Linked DNA regions of Homo sapiens. The protein of the gene in region 1 interacts with the protein of each later gene in a pairwise test. Each region holds a gene or a part of one and is shown in the gene's direction. Other genes may lie near its edges.

What was found.
Region 2: the proteins of RBBP8 (region 1) and LMO4 interact in binary tests that used the Homo sapiens proteins (3 or more experiments, as listed by UniProt).
Region 3: the proteins of RBBP8 (region 1) and LIMS1 interact in a two-hybrid assay, tested with the Homo sapiens proteins (2 studies listed by BioGRID and IntAct).
Region 4: the proteins of RBBP8 (region 1) and RBL2 interact in binary tests that used the Homo sapiens proteins (3 or more experiments, as listed by UniProt).
Region 5: the proteins of RBBP8 (region 1) and TOPBP1 interact in a two-hybrid assay, tested with the Homo sapiens proteins (one large-scale study listed by BioGRID).
Region 6: the proteins of RBBP8 (region 1) and EXD2 interact in binary tests that used the Homo sapiens proteins (3 or more experiments, as listed by UniProt).
Region 7: the proteins of RBBP8 (region 1) and IGFBP7 interact in a two-hybrid assay, tested with the Homo sapiens proteins (one large-scale study listed by BioGRID and IntAct).

The regions. Positions count from the first base shown.
Region 1 is NC_000018.10:22,995,828-22,999,327, forward strand, and holds part of RBBP8 (DNA endonuclease RBBP8), read left to right. Parts: intron 1-546; coding exon 547-635; intron 636-1,792; coding exon 1,793-1,907; intron 1,908-3,500. UniProt on the Homo sapiens protein: Endonuclease that cooperates with the MRE11-RAD50-NBN (MRN) complex in DNA-end resection, the first step of double-strand break (DSB) repair through the homologous recombination (HR) pathway.
Region 2 is NC_000001.11:87,338,880-87,342,379, forward strand, and holds part of LMO4 (LIM domain transcription factor LMO4), read left to right. Parts: intron 1-656; coding exon 657-753; intron 754-1,167; coding exon 1,168-1,323; intron 1,324-3,500. UniProt on the Homo sapiens protein: Transcription cofactor. Plays a role in establishing motor neuron identity, in concert with MNX1, acting, at least in part, to disrupt LDB1-LHX3 complexes thereby negatively modulating interneuron genes in motor neurons.
Region 3 is NC_000002.12:108,537,470-108,540,969, forward strand, and holds part of LIMS1 (LIM and senescent cell antigen-like-containing domain protein 1), read left to right. Parts: intron 1-3,500. UniProt on the Homo sapiens protein: Within the IPP (ILK-PINCH-PARVIN) complex, binds to F-actin, promoting F-actin bundling, a process required to generate force for actin cytoskeleton reorganization and subsequent dynamic cell adhesion events such as cell spreading and migration.
Region 4 is NC_000016.10:53,437,471-53,440,970, forward strand, and holds part of RBL2 (retinoblastoma-like protein 2), read left to right. Parts: intron 1-1,545; coding exon 1,546-1,676; intron 1,677-3,500. UniProt on the Homo sapiens protein: Key regulator of entry into cell division. Directly involved in heterochromatin formation by maintaining overall chromatin structure and, in particular, that of constitutive heterochromatin by stabilizing histone methylation.
Region 5 is NC_000003.12:133,620,442-133,623,941, reverse strand, and holds part of TOPBP1 (DNA topoisomerase 2-binding protein 1), read left to right. Parts: intron 1-484; coding exon 485-631; intron 632-748; coding exon 749-851; intron 852-3,500. UniProt on the Homo sapiens protein: Scaffold protein that acts as a key protein-protein adapter in DNA replication and DNA repair. Composed of multiple BRCT domains, which specifically recognize and bind phosphorylated proteins, bringing proteins together into functional combinations.
Region 6 is NC_000014.9:69,211,998-69,215,497, forward strand, and holds part of EXD2 (exonuclease 3'-5' domain-containing protein 2), read left to right. Parts: intron 1-2,131; exon of another isoform or gene 2,132-2,176; intron 2,177-3,500. UniProt on the Homo sapiens protein: Exonuclease that has both 3'-5' exoribonuclease and exodeoxyribonuclease activities, depending on the divalent metal cation used as cofactor.
Region 7 is NC_000004.12:57,100,386-57,103,885, reverse strand, and holds part of IGFBP7 (insulin-like growth factor-binding protein 7 isoform 1 precursor), read left to right. Parts: intron 1-3,500. UniProt on the Homo sapiens protein: Binds IGF1 and IGF2 with a relatively low affinity. Stimulates prostacyclin (PGI2) production. Stimulates cell adhesion. Acts as a ligand for CD93 to play a role in angiogenesis.

The DNA.
Region 1 (3,500 bases):
TATGAACAATGCTGCTATGAACATTTGTATACAGGTTTTTGTGTGGATGTATGTTTTCATTTTTCTTGGATTATACCTAGGAGTGGAATTGTTGGGCCATATGCCAATTCTACATTTTACCTTTTGAAAGACTGCCTGTTTTCCAAAGCAGCTACACCATTTCACATTCCCACCAGCAGTATGTGAGGGTCCCAGTATCTCCACCTCCTCACTAGCACTTGTTATAGCTTTTTGATTTTTGCCATCTCGTGGTTTTGGTTTGCATTTCCTTGACTGCTGATGATGTTGAGCATCCTTTCATGTTTATTGGCAATTTGTATATCTTCTTTGGAGAACTGTCTATTTAGATCCTTTGCCCATCTTTAATTGGGATATTTGTCTTTTTATTATGGAGCTGTGAGAGTTCTTTATATATCTTAGATATAAGTCCTTTACCAGACATATGATTTGCAAAAATTTTCTATTCTTTAGGTCCCATAATATTTTAAAGTGATGAGAATTTTTGAAATCAGTTTTTTAATTGCATGCTCTTTCCCTTTACCTAAGATGTATCCTTTGAAAATATCCAGTGGAGTATAGATCCGGGAGCAGACCTTTCTCAGTATAAAATGGATGTTACTGTAATAGATACAAAGGTAAGTTAAAAAGTAAAACCAAAACTCATTTGACTTTTATTCCAATGAGTTGTTAGTCAACCTCCTCTCGTGACTCACTGTATCACCTTAAGATAATCAGATACGTCTTAAAACCTACATGTATTTATGCAGAAAATTAAGAAATAAAAATGCTTATTCTTCTAACTTTATGGTATTTTTTAAAGGGTAATACTTTCTGACTTTAAAGGCCTTTACTGAAAAATATTAATATAGTTTTTAAAAGAATGCAGTGGGCAGGCGCAGTGGCTCATGCCTGTAATCCCAACACTCTGGGAGGTCGAAGAGAGAGAATCACTTGAAGCCAGGAATTCGAGACCAGCCTGGGCAATATAGCAAGGCCCTGTCTCTATAGGAAATTTTAAAGTTAGCTGGGCATGGCAGTGCATACCTGTAGTCCTAGCTACTTGGGAGGCTGAGGTTGGGAGGATACCTTGAACCCAGGAATTCGAGGCTGCAGTGAGGTATGATCACACCACTGCACATCCAGCCTAGGCAACCAGAGCAAGACCCTGTCTCATAAATTAAAATAATGCAAAATGCTGCATATCTTATATAATTTTATCATTCATTAAAATAATTCATCATGTCTTCATTACCTTTAAAATAATGTACCATAAAATTCATTTTCCAAGTTGACTATTTTTAAAAGTTAAAATTCATAGTGGAAATAGTTTTTTGTCTTGTATTTAGCTTCTGTGTAGTTTCAGAAGTTCTCTTTCACTTGGTAGCATATTAATAACAAAGTATTTAACATACGCTGAGTAATATATGCCTATCAAGAAATTTAATTTAATTTTTGAAAGTGTTCTTAGTGTACATTGATGTTCATTACTATAAGGCAAATTGGAAAATAAAGGCAGGAAAAGTTCAGGGGTGTTTAGTGGTAAATAATTCTCCCTTTCCTTGGCAGCAGTCCTTCTTTTCCTAGGCTTGATTATATTGAAGCTAAAATGTTTTATAAGCAGTAAAACCTAAATCCTTACCTGTTCGTAAAGTATAAAAGCAAATATAGCTTAATGCTTAAAAGTTGTAAAATGTATGTTATGTATATTTTACCAAAATGTTTTGTAAAAATTAAATATAAGACCATAAAGGAATAATTGTTAAAATTTTTGATTTTTAAAATATTTATTTAGGATGGCAGTCAGTCAAAATTAGGAGGAGAGACAGTGGACATGGACTGTACATTGGTTAGTGAAACCGTTCTCTTAAAAATGAAGAAGCAAGAGCAGAAGGGAGAAAAAAGTTCAAGTAAGATCTGTTTTTGTTTTGTTATTTTTTTTAATAACGTTGTGTGAAGTTTGTAGTTGTACCATTGCACTGATTAGCTCAAGTGACCTCTTCACCATAAAGCAGGTTTTTTCCTGCTCTGTTAACTTTATGTTCCTCTTAGGAAAGCTCAGTTTCAGTGCGTCAGAAAAAAAGTCTTTAACCAAACTAATTTCATTTCAGAAAAGATTCATATGGCTTCCAGGGATTTGCAAATGACAGCCAGCTACCAGTTTTGTAAATAAAGTTCTACCAGAGCACAGCCTTATTCATTTCTTTATGTATTGCCCATCGCTGTTTGTTCCATACAGCTGCAGAGTTGAGTAGTTGATGCAGAGACCTTATAGCCCCACAAGCCTAAAATAGTTATTTTCTGACCCTTTAAGAAAAAGTTTGCTGATCCCTGGTGTAGACAATTTTTTATAAGTGGTATAACAGTAAGTCTTGAGTCCTGTGTTAGAATTAACGTTTTCTAAAGAAATTTGATAAGGAAAGAAAGGAGAAATCTACCGAGAAGTCTTAGTATAGTTTTACAGGTTAACATTCAGAATGATAGTGTATATGCTGAGTTAATCTGCTGTATTCCACCTCTACTGATAAGGCAATTTGGCCAAATTAGTGGTCTACAGCCCTTTGTAGTGAGAAACTATTAATTCTTTACCCAAAGTCTTGATTTTCCGGAAGAGATGAGAACAATAGGAGGATTTTGGTTAGCAGTACCTTAGCAACATTCCTAACTGTAGAGGCACATGACATGAGAACAGCTAGACTATGAACAGTTGTCATTTATCATCCTTATGTATTGAAGAGCGAGGGCCTGCCACATGGGGAAGCAGTGCTAAAAGCAGAGACATTCCCCAGTGATCATTTGTTAGAAGCCGAATACATTGAGGCTGGGTGTGCATTCCTTATCTTCTGCTGAATTTTCTATAGTCTACCTGCTCAGAGCAAAAAATAAAATAGTCTTGCCCTGGCTTCTTTTGAATCTACTTATCTACTGCTGCCTTAAATGCAGTAAATCAAAGAAAACTTTAGTAGTCTTTGCCTTATTTGTTCTTCAATGACAAATAGCAAACCATATGATGAAGCAGATGGTTACCTGGGTAGAGAAGCCAATACCTATTAAAAGAAAAAACCTTCACAGTAGTTTATTGCCATTTTATGGCTTGTATGACACTAAATAACTCTTCTTAAGAGGATACTTTGCTTTTAAGATTATTTTGTTCCTGATACTAGCCTCTGATCATGTTTTTCTCATTTTTGTAGAAAAGAGAAAATCTAAAGTATGACCACTTTAAATCTATTCAGAAGACAATAGTTTCTCAAATTTATTTGATGCAAGTATCATGTGAAAGAGAAATTAGCACTTGGACTAATGAGGGGAAATTATAGAGATAATTTTGGCTAATAAAGTGCTATGGATAGTATTGCTACATAATGAATGAATCACTTGAATAACTCAGAGGATTCAAACAATACCATTTTCTTATCTTCATAGTTCCTGTGGCTCAGGAATTCAGGAAAGGCTTGGCTGGTCAGTTCTGTTTCAGGGTCTCATGCAGTTGTAGGCAGATG
Region 2 (3,500 bases), on another chromosome or scaffold:
GCAGATAGAGGGAAGTTGGAGCAAGCATTTCATTATCAAGAGAGAGAGAAGGTTAGGATGAAAGAGATGAGCAGAGGCAAATCTTAAGTGTTGACACCATGATTGAAAAGGTTAACCCATACACATTATATATCAACCTGGATAGCAGAGAGTTTCTAATGGAAAGTCTGCACTGATGGAGGTTTACGGGAGTTTCAATACACTGAGCATGATGTCTTCTTAGATATACAATCAAATCCTCTTAACCCTTTTGATGACTCATATCTGAAGATATGATTAAAGTACAAAAGAGTTCTTCATATAATTTCAAGGACACAATGCATTTAAACTCCAGTCATGAATTGTATCTTTTTTTTTTTTATGATGAACCTAGTAATCTGATAAAATGTGTGTAGAACAGAATTGTATTTGCTAGAGGTGTAAGTCAATATTTTGATTAAATCTGGGGCATCCTCTGCGGTAGGCAGAAGTTTGTTGTCCCACAAAAAGGATTTTTCCCAGATTATGTAAATCACTCAGAAAATCTGAGGCTTGAGCCTAAGAATTCAGCCTGTCAAATGCATTCCAAAGGGATGCCCAGAGTCTGGGGGTGTTTTTCTTTCTTTTTCTTTGGTTTAGGATTATTCACTGGTGTCAACCGTTATTCTTTGTTTCAGGTTATTTGGAAATAGCGGTGCTTGCAGCGCTTGCGGACAGTCGATTCCTGCGAGTGAACTCGTCATGAGGGCGCAAGGCAATGTGTATCATCTTAAGGTAGTATTTGCATCTCTCTTTTTTTTTTAAAAAAAAAATCATACCTTTCCTACCTACATGGGGGCAAAGCATTTCTCCTTGGTATGAACTGTTTTCTCAAGCTGCAGACACTTGAAGGAATGATTGAAATTGTAGCATGGCAGTGATGGTTACACATCCACATGCACAGACCACGCTTCCCCTATGCCACAGACAGAAGTACACATGTATTTGGATTTGTCCCCATTTAGCCTGGTCCAGTTGATAGCAATTTGGCTTACTGTTTTCTGGAGATCTGTCAAAGGAAGAAAAAACGCTAAACCCTAAGTGTCTCTGTACTTGACAGATACCTGCTTAATAACAGGTTATAAACTTGTGACCAAAAAAAGACTTAATTTTTACCTTGTTTTCAGTGGGTTTGTTTTTCCCTTTCAGTGTTTTACATGCTCTACCTGCCGGAATCGCCTGGTCCCGGGAGATCGGTTTCACTACATCAATGGCAGTTTATTTTGTGAACATGATAGACCTACAGCTCTCATCAATGGCCATTTGAATTCACTTCAGAGCAATCCACTACTGCCAGACCAGAAGGTGAATACCCAGCAATTACTAATAAGCTTTATTAGAGCAAGTTGGAAGGTTCAACCTCTTAACCTAGCAAGAGAGTTTTCTTGGGTGGTTGTATTTTTGCATGCCCTTTTAAAGAAATGTAGATTACTAGTTGTACATAGAGTGTTCAGAAGTAGGATAGCTGATTAAATTGTGAATCCTTTCTAGTTAAAAAAAAAATCCTGACTTTGTTATATCTGTAGCTTCACTCACGTTGAACATAAGATTATCACATGCAAAAGCAAACAAAATGTAAAGCTTCCATATAACTGGTTATTTATTCCATTTGACAATTTTGAAATTCAGAAACATGATGTGATAGGTTATTGTGGAAGAAAAATTAGAACATTTATGGTAGGAAAAGAGAATAAAGATCTTTGTTATGAAAGAATGATTTCTGCGTTAGGAATAGCAATCTGGACACCTGCCTTCCAAACCCAATTTACAATTCATTTACTTTTTAGAAGAGTAATTTTACAAAACATTCTGTAACTTCATAAGAGGGCATTTTTGTTCATTGGCGGTACCATAACATTTGAATAAGTTATGGCTTTTAAAACCAAGTTCTTGTTCTTGCTAACCCGCTTAGTGCCATTAATAGTGCCATTAGAAATTATGTATCTTGATTCTTGATCCACAACTTGAAAATCCTTGTACCAGAATTAAAAATTAGGAAATTATACAAGTATACAAATCATGTAGTATTAGAAGATATTCCAGAGGGAAAATTGGTGATCAACAGTTGTCCAGCACCCCCAGTACTGGATAGTTTTAGATCTATTTTAATCTCCTTAATAAGTCCTATAGCTATGCAAGTGAGTGCATTTTGATAACTGCTGTGCCTAATTTGTAACAATTACTGTCAACCTTCAGTTAAGAGACTGTTCATTCCACACCGGCCCAGAAAAGAGTGAAATGTATGACTCGTGTGCATAATTTTATTCACATCATATTTCATACTGATTATGTATTGATGACATTGATTCATTTACTCTTTACAGCGCCACTTGCATGGATATTAAATCTTATTGACCACAGATGAATTTTAATTTCAGATTGGTGATAGATTTTTCCATCAGCTCTGATAGTATGTTTGACTTTTTCATCATTAACCCAGGCAATCACACAGCACTGAGTTATTGCATTGAAACAAAAAGTGCACACTTCACTTGGTAATTCTTTATGGATTTACAATAGGAACTTCATTAATGTCTGTTGTAAGGATCACAAAAAAAACAACATTTATCTGCAAATAGGAATTTAGCAAGCTTCAAAAATCTCGGGGAAAAAAATAGACTTTTTTGTCTTCTGTAATGCATTTTCTTAGTGCGGTGGTGGAGGTGGGGGTTTGACAAATATTTGAAAACTTTTAACCATTAAAATTATGCTGCCATATTTTGATGCTTATATTTGCCCTTTTCCCTTGCTCAAGTTTATGAGGTAATTTTAAATGTATGTTCTGTTTCTTAGTGTTAATTACATGACATTATGTGCACTTTAATTTACTAATATGGGGAGCTACATAGAATAACCATTTTAAGAATAAAAGTTGAACTTTTTAATTGCAAACTAACCAGTCACTGCTGATGAGGTATTTCAAGCTTCTTCAAGGAGTGCCAAGACATATAAATGCTTAAAGATTTTTGTGATTTGGATTCTAATGAAGTGAATCTGCAGGGCAGAGTTGAGAACAATGAATGAGCAACATAAATATTTGGAGATACCTATTCAGAATAGAGGTAAAGCTGTTTGTAGTTACACTTGGTAGCAAAAAAGAAAAAATATGCTAGAAATAAAATGGTAGACCTTCTCTCCACTCCTTCTGATGTAAAAGCTTAATTTTTCCCCGAGTTAGAGCTTCACTTTGTTGCTGGTTTTATACCATTTCTTTCTCTGACTTAGCAAAGTACTATACAAAAAAATGATTGTTGCAGTTCACCAGCATGCATGGTGAGAATGAAAGGATGTAGAGATGAGATGGAAAATGTTGCTAGATTGTGAAGCACTGAATACAGGCAATAGCAGTGTTAGGTAGGGACCAAGTATAAAGCACACCTAAGAAATATGAGCAGGATTTCATACCATCTTTTATAGTATAAGATGGCATAAATTTAGAGGTGTTAGGGAGGAGAACTGCAGAAAAACCAGGTTTACCTGTT
Region 3 (3,500 bases), on another chromosome or scaffold:
AACTTTCTGCCTTTCAGGATTTTCCCTGATAAGAAAATGGCCAGTGCCATTATGAAGAGGGACAATGCCATGGGCCTAAGTGTATTCACACTTTTCAGTGCTCTGTGCCTGTTTGTATGGTGAGAAAATCGAACTGTTGATTTTTAAGAAAGCTAAGGAAAGTTTGGTGGTACAAAAGATCATTTCAGTTCTGGTGGTTCCGGTTTTTGCAGGCTTAGAGAAAACTGTCCATCAGGATTGTGCTGTCTTGATTTTATTTGATCATTCCCACCCTTTTCCCTTTGCTGTAGCCCCTTGACCTGTCTCCTGGGCAGTTCTTTCCTTTGCTAAATGTGAGTACAACAAGTAGGCTTTCCTTTCCTCCTAGAGAGGGGGACCTTGGAGCCCCTCCACTGGGTCAGAGAAACTTCCATAGCTGCAGCAGATCAGTAACAGGAGAGCCGAGCTTTACTCTGAAAGCCTCTATTTTCAATAATGTTGTGTTTGCTCTTTGGATAATCATTTAAATAAATAAACCTCAGTATAGGTCATGTTCTTACCTAGGTTTGCACTTAAATAGAAGGAAAAACATCTCAAACCATTTTGTTAGTTTTATAGTTCTCGTAACTACACTTTAAGCTGTGGTTTTCCACCCACAGGGATGTCATCTACATTATATGCTGGACTGTTGCCACATTGTCTTCCAAAAACTTTAATTTTAAGACACTTGAGAAGCAGGAGCTGCACTACCTGTTGCCATATACTGTGCATTCTTCAGCAACAGAGGTTTCCTTTTCACTCTTTCTGATATAATCTCATCTCTTTTATTTGATCATATCACACATTTCCACCCTGGAGCTTACTGCAGGAATGAGTAAGGGAGTCATTTTCCTGCATCTTTTTTCACGTTGGAGCACGTTTTGGAGCTTGATGAGTCTTCAGTGACATTTAACAGTGGGGCGGGACAGCTGCAGATAAAGCAAGTGCTGAAGAGTGCATTCTGTGAGAGGTAGGAAGAAAGGTGAAGGCAGTAGTTCAGCTGCTGGGAGTATGTGCTTGGCAGTGGGAGGCACGGGACTCAGCATCAGCACACCAGGAATCCAGGGCTTTCAGGATGTCTGAGTAGCAGGCAAGGTAAAGCAAGATAACAGACAACATGCATTTACAAGTAATGTTTACACATACTTTCCCTTTCTACAAAAATGGAATCATAGTCATACTATTCTGCAATTGCTTTTTTTAGTATTAAAAAAGTTACGGGAAAACATGCAAAACAAAATTTACTATTTTAACCATTTTTGAGTGTACAGTTCTGTGGCATTATGTACATTGACGTTGCTGTGCAACCATCACTACCCTTCCTTCCAAGAACTTTTTCATCTTCCCAAACTGAAACTCTGTGACCAGTAAATACCAACTCCCCATTTCTTGCAATTGCTTTTTTACTTCAACAAGCTGTCTTAGAGCGGTGTATCTGGGTTTACCTTATGTTTTTTAACCTTAGTTTTAATGGCTGCATAGTATTTCACAGTGTACATGTGATATGATTTGTACATCCAGTCCTTGACTAGTGGTTATTTGGGTTCTATTTTTTAATTATCACAAACACTTTGAACATCTCTGCCAGAGTGTTTTTTGTTTTGTTTTGTTTTTGAGACAAGGTCTCACTCTGTCACCCAGGCTGGAGTAAAGTGGTGCAATCATGGCTCACTGCAGCCTCAACCTCCTGGGGTCAGGTGATCCTTTCACCTTAGACTTCTGAGTAGCTGGGACAACAGGTACATGCCACTATGCCCGGCTAATATTTTGTATTTTTTGTAGTGACAGGGTTTCCCCATCTTGCCCAGCCTAGTGTTGAATTCCTGGCCTCAAGCGATCCGCCCTTCTCGGCCTCTCAAAGTTCTGGGATTACAGGCGCGAGCCACTGCACCCAGCTACCAGAGTTTTCATAGCTTTCTGAGTGTAGAGTTAGTATGTGCATGAGTGTTTGGGTCCATGTTCTAGTCCTAGTTCTGTCCCTTCATGGCTCTTTGACTTTGGCCCTGTCAGCGTCTTTAAGCCTCAGATTCTTAATTTATAAAATAATCCCACCTGTCTCAGAGGTTGTTGTGATAACTAAATATGAAGGCAAATGCAAATATTTCTGAAAGGATACCGATGAAATTTTTAGTGATTGTTGCTTCTGGAGAGGGAGTCTAGGCACCTGAGAATCCAGGATGAGAGGGACATTTTTTGTTGTATAGCTTTTTGTACTGTTTTGATTTTTAAAATCGTGTATGTTTTCATTTTTAAACCATTTAACACCATGCCAGGAACATAGTAGATGCTCAATGAAGTCATCATTTCCCATCATCCTGGTTCTTTTCCTCCGGACTTATACTGCTGCTAATGGCACCTAACATGGTTGCTTTTGTTTCTTCCTGTCCTTCCCTCCCTATAGCCACCTTCTTGCTGAGTTCTTACCTTCGAATTTTCTCTTGAATCCATCGTTTTCTTTTTTCACTCCTTTCTTACTGATTTCCTTTTCACCCTGGTTCTGAAAATCTTTCAAATGAACATAAGATGATAGTATTAAGACTGGGAAAGACTTGAGAGAATGCAGAGCCAGTGTCCTGTGGACTGTAAACTTATTCCAACTGGCTTGAAAAAAAAAATCTATGCACATACTAAGTGTTTGAAGTGGAACAAATGATGTTTTGTGAATGTTTCTAATTTTCATTTAACAGGTGATAAAGTACAGATTCCTTTTTTTTTTTTTTTTTTTTTTTGAGACGGAGTCTTGCTCTGTTGCCCAGGCTGGAGTGCAGTGGCATGATCTCGGCTCACTGCAGGCTCCGCCTCCCGGGTTCAAGTCATTCTCCTGCCTCAGCTTCCCAAGTAGCTAGGACTACAGGCGCCTGCCACAACACCTGGCTAATTTTTTGTATTTTTAGTAAAGACGGAGTTTCACCGTGTTAGCCAGGATGGTCTCTACCTCCTGACCTTGTGATCTGCCCGCCTCGGCCTCCCAAAGTGCTGGGATTACAGACTTGAGCCACCGCGCCTGGCTGATAAAGTACAGATTCTTTTAAAGGGTTTGTGGAATTCGTGGTAGTATTTATATAGTGCATGCTTTATCTGTTAACGTGCTAAAAAGACAATCATGGTGACATGAAGATCTAAGAAAATTTATTTAACATTTAAAAAGTGGGTTTATATGTGAAAAAGTTGGAACCTACTGAACTCATGCACTTTAGTGGGTCCCCTGCATTAGCCCTTTATTTAAATACACTGCTTCTTTATTTTACAGGACAGGATTTGCCTAGAAGGTAAAATAGTTTATTCAAGGCCGAAAGTCAGTTAACAGCAGGGTTAGGAATACAGCCCAAGATGTGGTTGTATTGTGGGGTCTCCTCTGCTATATTACGTTGGTTTGCTCTGTTACTTTATTCACATTGCATTGTTACAGTTTGTTGTGTGTATATATTTTATCTTTTTGTCTACAGTATAGAGTAAATACCTTGAGGACCAAGACCTATAGC
Region 4 (3,500 bases), on another chromosome or scaffold:
TTCCTCGCTTTTATAGGGAGAGGAAAGTTGTATCACTTCTTGAGTAAAAAGAATTGTGACGATCTTTTACAAACAATGCCTTAAAAATTATTATTTTTGAATGATATCTGGTAGTGGATCCACAATAGTCTCATTTGGTTATACAAATAAATTTTATGTATTCATGTATGTGTTTTGATTAGGTATAAAATTAGTGGCTGAATATCCATTCAAGCTTAATTTTGTATTTCTATCACTTTTCTAGATTTTGAGCAAGATTAAAAATATAAACAATAGGCCAGGCGCAGGGGCTCACGCCTGTAATCCCAGCACTTTGGGAGGTCTAGGTGGGCGAGTCACGAGGTCAGGAGATCAAGACCATCCTGGCTAACACATTGAAACCCAGTCTCTACTAAAAATACAAAAAATTAGCTGAGCGTGGTGGTGGGCACCTGTAGTCCCAGCTACTCAGGAGGCTGAGGCAGGAGAATGGTGTGAACCTGGGAGGCAGAGCTTGGAGTGAGCCAAGATGGAGCCACTGTACTCCAGCCTGGGTGACACAGTGAGACTCCATCTCAAAAAAAATAAAAAATAAATAAAAATAAACAATAATATTGTTTGCATTACTATGGCTATATAGCAAATTGCCTTAAAACTTAGGGGCAGAAAGCAATTTGTTTTGGTCACAGGTTCTGTGAGTAAGGAATTCAGGCTGGGGACAGTGTGGATGTCATGTTTCTGCGTCAAAATGACTGGTACCTCACCTGGAAGACTTGAGCAACTAGGTACTGGCACAGCTGGAGCTCGTTGGGCATCTCTGTATGTTTGTTCCATGTGGTCTCACCAGCATGGTGATCCAGGGTAGCTAAATTCTTACATGTTGGTTCAGGACTCCGAAGGCACATGTCCTAAGAGAGAGAACCAAGTGGAATCTATACTGCCTTGTATAATCTTTTAGAATTACATAGTTTCACTTCTACCTCTGCAATTATTGATAGAGACAGTTAATCAGTGTGAGGGAACGCAGACCCTTGCCCAGGTCCAAGGTGAGGGAACCCTCTCTACCTCTCAGTGGAATAATGTTAATGTCACATTATAAGAAGAGCCTACGGGGCTGGGTACAGTGGCTCACACCTGTAATCCCAGCACTTTGGAAGGCCAAGGCGGATGGATCACTTGAGGCCAGGAGTTCAAGACCAGCCTGGGCAACATGACAAAACCCTGTCTCTACAAAAAATACAAAAATTAGCCAGGTATGGTGGCGCACTTCTGTAGTCCCAGCTACTTGGGAGGCTGAGGTAGGAGGAGTGCTTGAACCTGGGAGGTGGAGGTTGCAGTGAGCCAAGATTGCGCCACTGCACTCCAGCCTGGGTGACAGAGCAAGATTCCATCTCAAAAAAAAAAAAAAAAAAAAAAAAAAAAAGAGCGTATGAGATAGGGTCATCATTGAAACTAAGTTTCCCACAAAAATATAAACAACACTTTCAATTTAAACATACTTTTAAAAATATTGAAATATTTATATGTAGCTTTTTAACTAAAAATCAATTTTCTTTTCTTTTACAGGGAAATGATCTTCATTGGTTAGCATGTGCCTTATATGTGGCTTGCAGAAAATCTGTTCCAACTGTAAGCAAAGGGACAGTGGAAGGAAACTATGTATCTTTAACTAGAATCCTGAAATGTTCAGAGCAGAGGTAACTATGTTAGAGTTTGACAAGTAGAGTATGGCTAATGTAAGCTCATAAATCATAGTGATAGTAAGAATTATCTCTGTTTATCATTTTCTGAGCATTTGTACCTGTGGACTGGTGAAATTAGATGCTAAAACTAGCATCTAATGATTTTCCTTTCTTTATATCACAGTTAATATCCATTATATTTTACTTCTTTGGTGAAAATATTTAAATTTTAATGTTTTAGGCACTTGTATGGCAGAATTTATTTTTAAAGTTTAGGACATTGTGTAATATTGGGAGAAATGAAGGATATTGAGAAACTTTAGGAGATACTCCAAGTTGAAAAGGTAAATAAAATATTATTTGCTATTATACTTAGAAATATGTGCACAGGACTTGTGGTCTTAATATAAATGGAACATGTAAGTATTTCTCAGTTTCCTGTTTGGAGGATAAATGACATGATTATAATCCATTTTAGAAAGGGTCAAATATGTTTAAAAGAAGAGGCAGAAATTGCTTTATCTGTTGTGTAATTAAATTGATTACATTTATTTTTTGTGCCTTTTAGGTGAATTTTCTTACATGGCTTATTAAAGATAAGTGGAAAAATGATGTTTAGCATTTTGGGGGAAATTACCACTGTCAAAATTTATGGAGTTAATGGTTAAAAAATCACTTACTAAATAAAAAAATTAACTGGGTGTGGTTGTGCATACCTGCAGGCCTAGCTACTTGGGAGGCTGAGATGGGAGGATCACTTGAGCCCTGAATGATGGAGCAGCACTGCACTCCAGCCTGGGCCACAGAGCAAGACCTTGTCTCCAAAAAAAAAAAAAAAAAAAAAAAAGAAGGTTACTATTAAAATAATTAGCAGGCTGGGGGCGGTGGCTCACACCTGTAATCCCAGTAATCCCAGCACTTTTGGAGGCCAAGGTGTGTGGATCACTTGAGGTCAAGAATTGGAGATCAGCCTGGCCAATATGGTGAAACCCCGTCTCAACTAAAAATACAAAAATTAGCCGAGTGTGGTGACATGCGCCTGTAATCTTAGCTACTCAGGAAGCCGAGTCAGGAAAATCACTTGAGCCCAGGAGGCAGAGGTTGCAGTGAGCACTATTGCACTCCAGCCTGGGTGACAAGAGCGAGACTCCATCTCAAAACAAATAAATAAAATAAAATAATTCACAATGTCATGTTTTAGCTGACGTTGTGAATTTTAGTAATCTTTTTTTAACCTTTAACTCCATCCTGAGTTACATTGACCAAAGAATCAGTATCTAGAATTATATCAGGAACTACTAACAGGGTTAATAAAATGAATAAAGAACATGACTTCACAAAGGTTATAATTCACATAGCTAATAGATACAGGAAGAGATATTCACTGTCACTAATAAAGACTTTCAAAGTAGAAAGATAACATTTCATTCTGTTTTTTTTGAGATGGAGTCTTGCTGTTTCACCCAGGCCAGGGTGCAGGGGCGTGATCTCAGCTCATTGCAGCCTCTGCCTCCCAGGTTCAAACGATTCTCCCGCTGTGGCCTCCCAAGTAGCTGGGATTACAGATGCGCACCACCACACCTGGCTAATTTTTTGTATTTTTAGTAGAGACGGGTTTCACCATGTTGGCCAGGCTGGTTTCCAACTCCCGACCTCAGGTGATCCACCCGCCTTGGACTCCCAAAGTGCTGGCATTACAGGTGTGAGCCACCATGCCTGGCCAACATTTTATTCTTATCATTGGGAAAATTTGAAGTCTGGTATACCAAGTTTGGTCACTGTACAGGGAAACAGGAACTCTATTTTTTTTATTTTTCAGTTCTTTTTTTTTTTTTTTTT
Region 5 (3,500 bases), on another chromosome or scaffold:
TAATAGTCTTGGTTAACTGTACACATTTCAGATCTTTGGCATCAAAAACTTAACATCTTTAGTCCTTAAATACTTAACAAATCTTTAATGGATACTCTTTCTAATTCTCCATTTCCTTGTACTAATTAAAAATGTGATATGAATGGAAAGTTTATAATTATTTGGGGAAAATTTAACATATCAATAGAGTTTAGATCTGTGTTTCTTTTTTTTCCTGGGTATTCTCTGGAGGGTAATTGATACCTTTGCAAAAGCACAGGAATGGTTTCAGATTTTATACTTCAGTGGATATGACATTTAAAACATGAGGACAATCTGTCATTTGTATGATGCAAATTTTTCAGTGTAAACTACTTTTCAAACCAGTTTTGTGAACTTTTTGCCATATTACAGTATAATGTATTGCTTGTCCTTATCCTACTTAACATCATCTATTCATTAAGATTTTGTCAGTCCTGTCTTAAAGCACACCATTGTATTGCAGTGTGCCCAAGAGTGTAAACATCTTCCTGAATCTCTTTATCCACATACTTATAATCCCAAAATGAGCTTGGATATCAGCGCAGTGCAAGATGGCCGGCTCTGTAATAGTCGACTACTCTCAGCTGTGTCTTCAACAAAGGATGATGAGGTAGGAGATATGGATGATACATTTACCCCCTCTTAAGCTAAAGGTATAATCATATATTGCTATGAAACCTTATACAGTGGCTTGGTTTGAGAATTTATAATTTTTCTTTTTCAATAGCCAGATCCTTTGATTTTAGAAGAAAATGATGTAGACAATATGGCCACCAATAATAAAGAGTCAGCACCATCAAATGGAAGTGGAAAGAATGACTCTAAAGGAGGTAAAATATTTTATTTTTTAATTAAAAAAATTTTTTTTGAGACAAGGTCTCAATTTTTTGTGGAGATGGGGTCTTGTCATCTTGCCCACACTGGTCTGAAACTCCTGGGCTGAAAGGATCCTCCTGCCTTGTGAGCCACTGCACCCAGCTGTAAAATATGTTTAAATTACTAAATACAAGCAAAGCATATATTAGAGGATTGATTTGTGGTCCCATGCTGATCATTAAGTGATAATTTGCAAAGTTTTATGTAGTTTAAGTGTAAAGCTTATGAAATTTATGAAACTAGGTTTTTATGGAGTTAGTGTGATACAGCCCTATTCCATTAAAGGTAGGTGAAGTTGGTGATTTTTTAAAAATCTAGTCTTTGGTCCAGTTCTTTTGAGTGATTTTCAAAAAGTTTTCTTATATGTACAATATATTTTAACATATCCACATGGTTTTAAAGATACAAAAAGACATATGAAGAGTTTCTTCCACCCTTATTCTCCAGCCCCCCAGTGTTATTAGTTCCTTATGTATCCTTCTAGAGCTGCTTTATGCATATATAGCCGTAAATATGTTTTTCCCCCATTAAAAAAAAACAAACAAACACATAGGCTGGGCATGGTGGCTCGTGTCTGTAATCCCAGCACTTTGGGAGGCTGAGGCAGGCAGATCACCCAAGGTCAGGAGTTTGAGATCAGCCTGGCCAACATAGAGAAACTCCGTCTCTACTAAAAATACAAAAAATTAGCCGGGCATGGTGGTTGCATGCCTGTAATTCCAGCTACTCGGGAGGCTGAGGCAGGAGAATCGCTTGAACTCGGGAGGCGGAGGTTGCGGTGAGCCGAGATCATGCCATTGCACTCCAGCCTGGGCAAGAAGAGCAAAACTCTTGTCTCAAAAAAAAAAAAAAAAAAAAACATAAATGGTGGACTACTATACATGCTATTTCATACGCTGATCTTTTTGTTACCTTGGGTAGTGTTTTATATCAGTAGATAACTAGGAGCTTCTTTAGTCTTTTTCTTTCTTGCTTTTCTTCCTTCCTTCCCTCCCTTTCCTTCCTGTCCCCCTTCCTCTCCTTTCCCTCTTCCCTTCCTTTCCCTTTCCTTCTTTCTTCCCTTTTCTTTCTTTTTGGGCAACTGTATTGTATTCATTATGAATGGTCCCACTTTGTTTAGGCATCCATTCTTAATAGGCATTTAGGTTATTTCTACTTTCTTGCTTTTATAAATAGTACTGCAGTGAATAACCTTATACATGGATGTCTTTTAATAGATTTAATATGTTCTGTTTTCCTTACTCATTCTAACCTACCAAAGCTTTCCCTATGACTTACCTATTTGGTTAGTCTCACTCTGTTCATTCCAAATGCATTTATTTAATACTTACTCCAGAGTTTAGGCTTTAAAGAAAACCAAAGGTAAATACAGTTGTCTTGTCCCTTGGTATCCATGTGGCAGTGGTTCCGAGGACTTACCTCAGGTACCAAAATCCACAGATGCTTAAGTTCCTTATGTATAAAATGACATAGGATTTGAATTTAACCAATGCACATCCTCCTGTATACTTTAAATCATCTCTGGATTACTTATAATACCTAATGCACTGTAAATGTTTTGTAAATAGTTATATTTTATTTTTTTTACTGGTACTTTTAATTGTGATATTTTTCATTTTTATGTCTTTAAAATATTTCTGATCCATACTTGGTTGAATCCATGCATGCAGAACCGGTGGATGTGGAGGGCTGGATGTATGTTGTGGTCTGTGTTTTCAAGAGCCTTTGGGGAGTCTGGGCACGGTGGCTCACACCTGTAATCTCAGAGCTTTGGGAGGCAAAGGCAAGAGGATTGCTTGATGCTAGGGGTTCCAGATCAGCCTGGGCAACATAGTGAGACCTTGTCTCTACAAAAAATTTAAAAAATTAGCTGGGCGTGGTAATGTACACCTGTAGTGCCAGCTACTCAGGTTGCTGAGGCTGGAGGATCACTTGAGCCCAGGAGTTAGAGGTTATAATGAGCTATGACCATACCACTGCAGTCCAGCCTGGGCCACAGAGCAAGACTCTGTCTCTAAAAAATTAAAAGAATCTTTGGGAAAAATCAGACACATACACAAATGACTATAAGACATCTCAGAGTGTAGTACATACCATGAGAGTCAGAAGCAGGCAGGGAGCTTTACAGAGGGATAATCACTACAGGTCTTGATGAAATGTCTTTGAAGGGGGCCAGGCACGGTGGCTCATGCCTGTAATCCTAGCACTTTGGGAGGCTGAGGTGGGCAGATCACCTGAGGTCAGGAGTTCAAGACCAGCCTAGCCAACGTGGCGAAACCGCGTCTCTACTAAAAAATACAAAAATTAGCCCGGCATGGTGATGGGCACCTGTAATCCCAGCTACTTGAGAGGCTGAGGCAGGGAGAATTGCTTGAACCTGGGAGGTGGAGGTTGCAGTGAGCCGAGGTCGCACCACTGTCCAGCCTGGGCGACAGTGCTAGACTATCACCAAAAAAAAAAAAAAAAAAGTATTTGAAGGGCTTCCTAGTTATTTCATATACAGTGCTTGTGGTAAGGGCTGCTTTTTATGTTCTGCAGTATTCATAGTTTTAGTACATTACTATAGCCTGTAGTTAATATTCAGTAAATGTCAAGTCAATAAG
Region 6 (3,500 bases), on another chromosome or scaffold:
CTGTCATAAAAAACTCAATGAAAAAGTCATTCATGGCTTCCTTCCTTGTAAAAATAAGATAGAATAAATTTAAGAGATGAATAGAAAACAAAAATAGGCTGGGCGCGGTAGCCCACGCCTGTAATCCTAGCACTTTGGGAGGCCGAGGCGGGCAGATCACTTGAGGTCAGGAGTTCGAGACCAGCCTGGCAAGCATGGTGAAATCCTCCCCTCTACTAAAAATACAAAAATTAGCCAGGCGTGGTAGCAGGCGCCTGTAATCCTAGCTACTTGGGAGGCTGAGGCAGGAGAATTGCTTGAGCCCAGGAGGTGGAGGTTGCAGTGAGCCGAGATCACGCCACTGCATTCCAACCTGAGCGACAGAGCAAGTGAGACCCTGTCTCAAAAAAAGAAAAAACGAAGACAGAAATGAAAAATCATCCATTCTTGCTCTATTTATTCCTCCATTCCTGTTTTGCTTTCCTTTTCATTCACTTTTATGTAAATGTTTATTCGATTATTATTTTTGTTCTTCTTTATTGTTTTTTTTTTTTAGAGACAGGGTGGTGTCACTCTGTTTCCCAGGCTGGAATGCAGTGGTACTTATCATAGTTCACTGAACCTCGAACTCATGGGCTAAAATGATCCTTCTGTCTCAGCCTCCCATGTAGCTAGGACTACAGGTATGTGCCACCACTGTCACTTGGTTCCAATGGTTCTTGATTTTTTTTTTTTTTTTTTTTTTTTTTGAGACAAGATCTTACTCTGTCACCCAGGCTGGAGTGCAGTGGTGGGATTTTGGCTCACTTTAGCCTTGACCTCCCTGGGCTCAGATGATTGTCTCACCTCAGCCTCCTGAGTAGCTGGAACTACAGGTGTGCGCCACCACACCTGGCTAATTTTTTTGTATTTTTAGTAGAGACGGGGTTTTGCGGTGTGGTCCGGGCTGGTTTCAAACTCTTGGACTCAAGCAATCCATTCGCCTCAGTCCCACAAAGTGCTGAGATTACAGGCGTGAGCAACCGTGCCTGGCCTATGTTGTTGTTTTATAGTCAATATTTGTTTAGATTTACCAAAGTGTTTACCTTCCTGTATTCTTCTTCTTTTCTTTTTTTTTTTTTTTTGTAGATGGGGTCTTGCTCTTTTGCCCAGGCTGGAATGCAGTTGTGCGATCACAGCTAACTGCAGCCTTAACCTCCCAGGCCCAAGTAATCCTCCCTCCTGAGTAGCTGGGATTACAGGTGTGAGCCACCACATGCCATCTCTTTTTCACAGAGACAGGATTTTGCTGTGTTGCCCAGGCTGGTCCCAAACTCCTAGGCTCAAGTGATCCTCCTGCCTTGGCCTCCCAAAATGTGCTGGGGTTACAGGTGTGTGTGAGCTACCATGCTGGGCCCTTTTTTTTTTTTTTTTTTTTTTTTTAAGAGATGAGGTCTTGCTTTGTTGTGCAGTTGTGTGAGCATGGCTCACTGCAGCCTCAAACTCCTGGGCTCAAGTGATCCTCCTGCCTCAGCCTCCTGAGTAACTGGGACTACAGGCATGTGCCACTGCACCTGGATAATTTTTTTTTTTTTTTTTTTTGTAGAAATGGGGTCTTGTTGTGTTGCCCTGGCTGGTCTTCAACTCCTGGCCTCAAGTGATCCTCTCACTTGGTCCTCCTACAAGCATAAGCCACTGCATCCAGCTGTATTTACCTTTTTTTTTGTTTTTTTTTTGAGACAGAGTCTCCAAGGCTGGAGTACATTAGTGCAATCTTGACTCACTGCAACCTTTGCCTCCCGGGTTCAAGTGATTCTCCTGCCTCAGCCTCCTGAGTAGCTGGGAGTACAGGTGTGTGCCACAATGCCCGTCTAATTTTTTCTATTTTTAGTAGAGACAGGGTTTCACTGTGTTAGCCAGGGTGGTCTCGATCTCCTGACCTTGTATTTACCTTTTTCTTTGCTTACATTTTTCTTATATCTCTGACCTTCTTTTGGGGATCATTTTCCTTAAAATCGTTCTTTAACAGTTTAGGGCCCATTGATAATAAACTTCATCATTTTGAAAATGTCTGTATTTTGATTTTAATCTTAAAGAGATTTTCTCTGGGTGTAAAGTTCTGGTTTGGCAGTTTATCATTTTCAGGATAGTATTCCATTGCCTTCTGGCTTCCGTTATTGCTGTTGAAGATAACTGTCAGTCTATACCTTGATTCTTTGTAAGTAATGTAATTTTTTCATATCTCTTCTTAAGATCTTCTCTTTGAGTTTATGGTTCTGAAGGTTCACTATGATGAGTCTAGGTGTTTTATTTCTAGCTTGGGATTCAGAAAAATATCTGGATAATAGGATTGATGTTTTATCAATTTAAAATTTCTCTTTAAAGATTGTCTTTATCCTTTCTTCTTTCTTGCTGGAATTTAATATTTAACATATCTTAGTCTCTCTAGATTCATTATATACGATTTCTTCTGGTCTCTTTTACAATTCCCTTTTTCTTTATTTGGCTTTGTCTAATCTGTTTAACCTGCCCCTGAGTCTTTTTTTAGACTTTTTTATTGTGAAATATAACACATCAAGAAAAGTGCCTGGAACAAAAATAAACACTGAATGATTTATGTAAAGAGAACAGCTCAGCTGTGTAACTAGAAACTAGGTCAAGAAACGTAAGATTGCTAGGACTCCAGGAGCTCCTGTTGTGTCCACTTGAAATCATTGTCCCCTCACTGCCCTCTGAGGGTTACCATTATCCTGTCTCAAGAAAGTCTATTTACTTTCTTGTTTTCTTTATACTTTTACTGCTTAGGCATGCCTCCCTCATCACTATAGTTTAATTTTACCTGTTTTTTAAATTTAGTATAAATGAATCATCGAGTATGTGCTCTTTTTTGTCTTGCTTCTTTTTCCAAACATTGTGAGATTTACCTGTGTTGGGTGTGACTATGATTTGTTGCCATATAGTGTTCCATGGTATAAATATACCATGACTTATTTTTCCATTCTATTATTGATGGACATTTATATATATATATAAAATACAGTATAGTCCGGGCGTGGTGGCTAACACCTGTAATCTCAGCACTTTGGGAGGCCAAGGTGGGTGGATCACCTGAACCTGAGGTCAGGAGTTCAAGACCAGCCTGGCCAACATGGTGAAACCCCGTCTCTACTAAAAATACAAAAATTAGCCAGGTGTGGTGATGCATACAGGTATAATCCCAGTTACTTGGGAGGCTGAGGCAGAAGAATTGCTGGAACCCAGGAGGCAGAGGTTGCAGTGAGCTGAGAGTGTGCCACTGCACTCCAGCCTGGGTGACACAGCGAGACTCCATCTCAAAAATATATGTGTGTGTGTGTGTGTGTGTGTGTGTGTGTGTGTATAATACAATATATCATTTACATTTGGGGGCTCTTGCAAAGAATGGTGCAATTGAACATTTACACTCATTATTGGGCGTATGTGTCTATGAGTGGAGTTCTGGGTCAAGGAGTTTGTGTGCACATGCACGCACAATTTTAACTTTTATAGATGATGCCAAACTG
Region 7 (3,500 bases), on another chromosome or scaffold:
TGAAAATTGCCAGCCTGGGCAACATAGTGAGACCTCGTCTCTATAAAAAAAATAAAAAAATTAGCTGGGTGTGGTGGCACACACCTGTAGTCCCAGCTACTTGGTAGGCTGAGGCGGGAGGATTACTTGAGCCCAGGAGGTCAAATCTGCAGTGAGCCATGATCATACCACTGCACTCCAGCCTGGGTAACAGGGCAAGACCCTGCCTCAAAAAAAAAAAAAAAAGAAAAGAAAAAAAAAAAAGAAAAGTTCTAAGATCATAGACTTTAAATGTTGTTACCACACACACAAAAAAGTGTATGAGGTAATGCATATGTTAAATAGCCTGATTTAGCCATTCCAAAATGTCTACATGCATCAGAACATCATGTTGTATACCATATATATACAATTTTCAGTTATCAGTTAAAACAATTTTTTAAGAGAAAGGAGATAACCAGAGCATAGCCAGCAGAAGGACTCGCATGAGGTTTGGTGGGACTGCCTAGGGAGAAGGAGGCAGCTGGCTGCGTGACAGAGCCCAGTGATAGGGGAGGGCCTGTGACCCCTTAAGGAGCTGAGACGCTGTCACAGAGCAATGGGAGCGCTGAGTGATGGAGCTGGATTTGTGCTTTTAGAAAAGCTTTGTTGGCTGCTGTTGGGAGAATGGATTGGAAGGGGGTGAGACTGCAGTCAGAGACTCCCATAAGGAAGCTGTTACTGTAATCACAACAACAGATGCCTACACTCCTTCCCAAGACTTCCCTCTCTGATCTTAGAAGCATTGTCAAATCTGGGTTCCCAGCCTGCCATGGCAAGCTGCTTGCTACTTGGGAGTGAAAAGCCCTTGTGGAGCTTTTTCTTATTCGGTGACTGCTCATAAAGTGCCTTCACCTCGCTTGCCTTATTAGCCAGTCCTGCCTCCAAATTACCACCACTTGCTCCTTTCAGGAGTCTCTTCCCCCTAAAGTCCCTATTACTCCTTCTCTCTGCTTTCAGATCAGAAACAGAAAAAGTCACCTTCCCTAAGAGTCTGCTCCAGTCCAGTAGAAATGCTTTAAAATTTTTCTGGCCTCAGCTGCCCTTCTTGAGCACAGAAATTTCTAGAATATTGAATGAATCACTGGTTCTTTATAATCATTTTGTCCAGTTTCAATCACTGCATTTTAGGAAAGATTTGAAAAACTGAAGGACAAAGTGGGGCCTTAGAGGACTTAGGATTCTTTCAGAGGAAAGTAATCTAAAGAACAAGTTAATGTTTCTTCATCGTTTGGGAATTAGTTATTAAATGGAAGATGCCTGAAAAATTATTCTCTTAATACAGTTCTTCAGGAGGACAGCATTAAAAGGCCTGGAATTAAATAGCCACAAGGCACATTTAGATGACACAGCAGGAAGAACTTTCCAGTAAAAACTATTGAATAGGATACCGTGTTCAGGCAGAAGTCAGGAGACTCTCTTTAGGAGAGCTGAGAAATAACTTGAGGGGGAGGGGCCACATCTGGGGGAGGATTTTATAATTTTTAAATCTCTTAAACTATACAGCTTTGAGATGGAATGATTAAGCTGAGCAGGCATTTGTTAACATCCTGAAATACGATTTCCATCCTGTCCCTAGAGCCTGCCCTCGGGGTCCACTGTAGACTGGCCTTCTAGAAGAAACCGCCTTATAAGGCTCTCTTGGATAGTTCAGTGACAGAACACCCTTGGATGGAGTCCAAGGCCAGCTAGCCTTCACTGATTCAAAATTCCTCCCTACAGTGGATGAGATTATGATGCTTCCTTTACCTCAAGCCACCCCTACCCCACAAACAATCTGACCTCATCTGTGTTTTTCATTGTTAGACAAATAACATCTTGTTTTTAGCAGCTGGGGAACCCTGAATTATCGTCAAAAAAATTTTTAAGCCAGGGAATATGAGTGTAACCTTTATTTGAAATTTAGGAGTGGCACAATTAGAAAGCTTTGAAATGGAAGGAGACTTAGGTATATGTGAATTAATAAGCCCACTTATTTAAGGTAATTTCAAAGATTTCCCAGTGAGTCTTTTACTCTTATGTGGGGATAGCAGTGGAGGACTAGAAATGTTCAAGGGAAGCTTCCCCCAGCCTGTCATATATGGCTTTTCCAGGTCAATCAAGACCGTCTCCTCCACCAGGCCTCTGAGAGAAAATGAGATCAGAAGAAAAAAGCCAGGATGATAATGGGGGGAGGGGGGGAAACGTTTACTTATTTATTTTTTTTACTTAAAATTGATTGTGTTAAATAGTTGACCTCTGTTTTATCCCAAGTTGGATTAATGGCAAAATGATATGGCCCTTTTGAAAAAGCTAATGTGTTGAATTGCCTTTACTGTTTTACAGAGGAGAGCAGTCAAAGTTAATTAGAAACAGCTGGAGCTAACAGTAAGCCTCACCCCCATCAATGTCCCTACCAGGAGAGGGTTACCAGGGAGAGGAGCAGTCCCGGGAATCCAGGGAGGGGCCTCTGGTCCCAAAAGCAGGCCAGAGTTGCAGAGAAGTTTTGTGTCTGAAAAATAAGAAAGGTTCATTTCAGGTGAAACAGACCTAGGAACCCTGTGTTGACAAAGCCCCATTCATATGATATGAAGTTCCCACAGTAAAGAGCACTGACAAGGCCAAGGCCAACCCGACAGGTTCAAAGCAGGCTTGGCCACTGTGAAAAAACAACCCCCTCAAAACTTCAGGAGAATGTATATAATAAATGAAGGTACAATTTCATACCTTCACAGGATTATTGAGAAGGTCAAATTACATAACAGATATGAAAGCACTGTGTAAACTATGCGGACTATGCTGCACCAAATAACTGTAAAGAATTATTAACTAGACTGTAAATGCCTTGAGGGCAAGGAATGCATCTGCAACGGGTATTTGTGAAGTACTTGACAGTTTGCTAAGGACTTCTGTGGATTTTCCTCATATGCTACTCATAACAACCCTGGAAGGTAAGGGGAATTGTTATCCCAAATTCCAAATAAAGACACTGCAGGTCAGACATCACACAGGTGGTAAATAGCAATTCTGGTACTTACTTTAGATATTCTGCTACAGGCTTGCTATTCAAAGTGTGGTATGTAGACCAGCAACATTGACTCTCTGTGCTATCTTTCTTTTTTATAAACTCGGAATTATTTCAAAATAAGAAGTTTCTAACAAAAGAGATTCAGAAGAGTCAAACCCTTGGGTGTGAAAAAGTTTTAGGAAGACTTTCCTGAATTTATTTTGCCTATATTTTGTTTCTGTTGAATGAGCAAGGGGGTTATATGATATATTTGTGTCTAAATACATCTAAAAGAGCTCTTTCATTCGCATAAAATAAACATGCTGTATGATAACAAAGTTTATGTCAGAGTTGAGATGGCTCTTTATGGTACATATATGCTGTGCCTTCTAAAAAATGTCATATTATATTCAGTGAAAGATGATGTTTCTTAAAATGAATGAATGTCTCTGAGGTGGCTAACATTAGTCCTTCTATAGCCAGATTAGCAATCTTA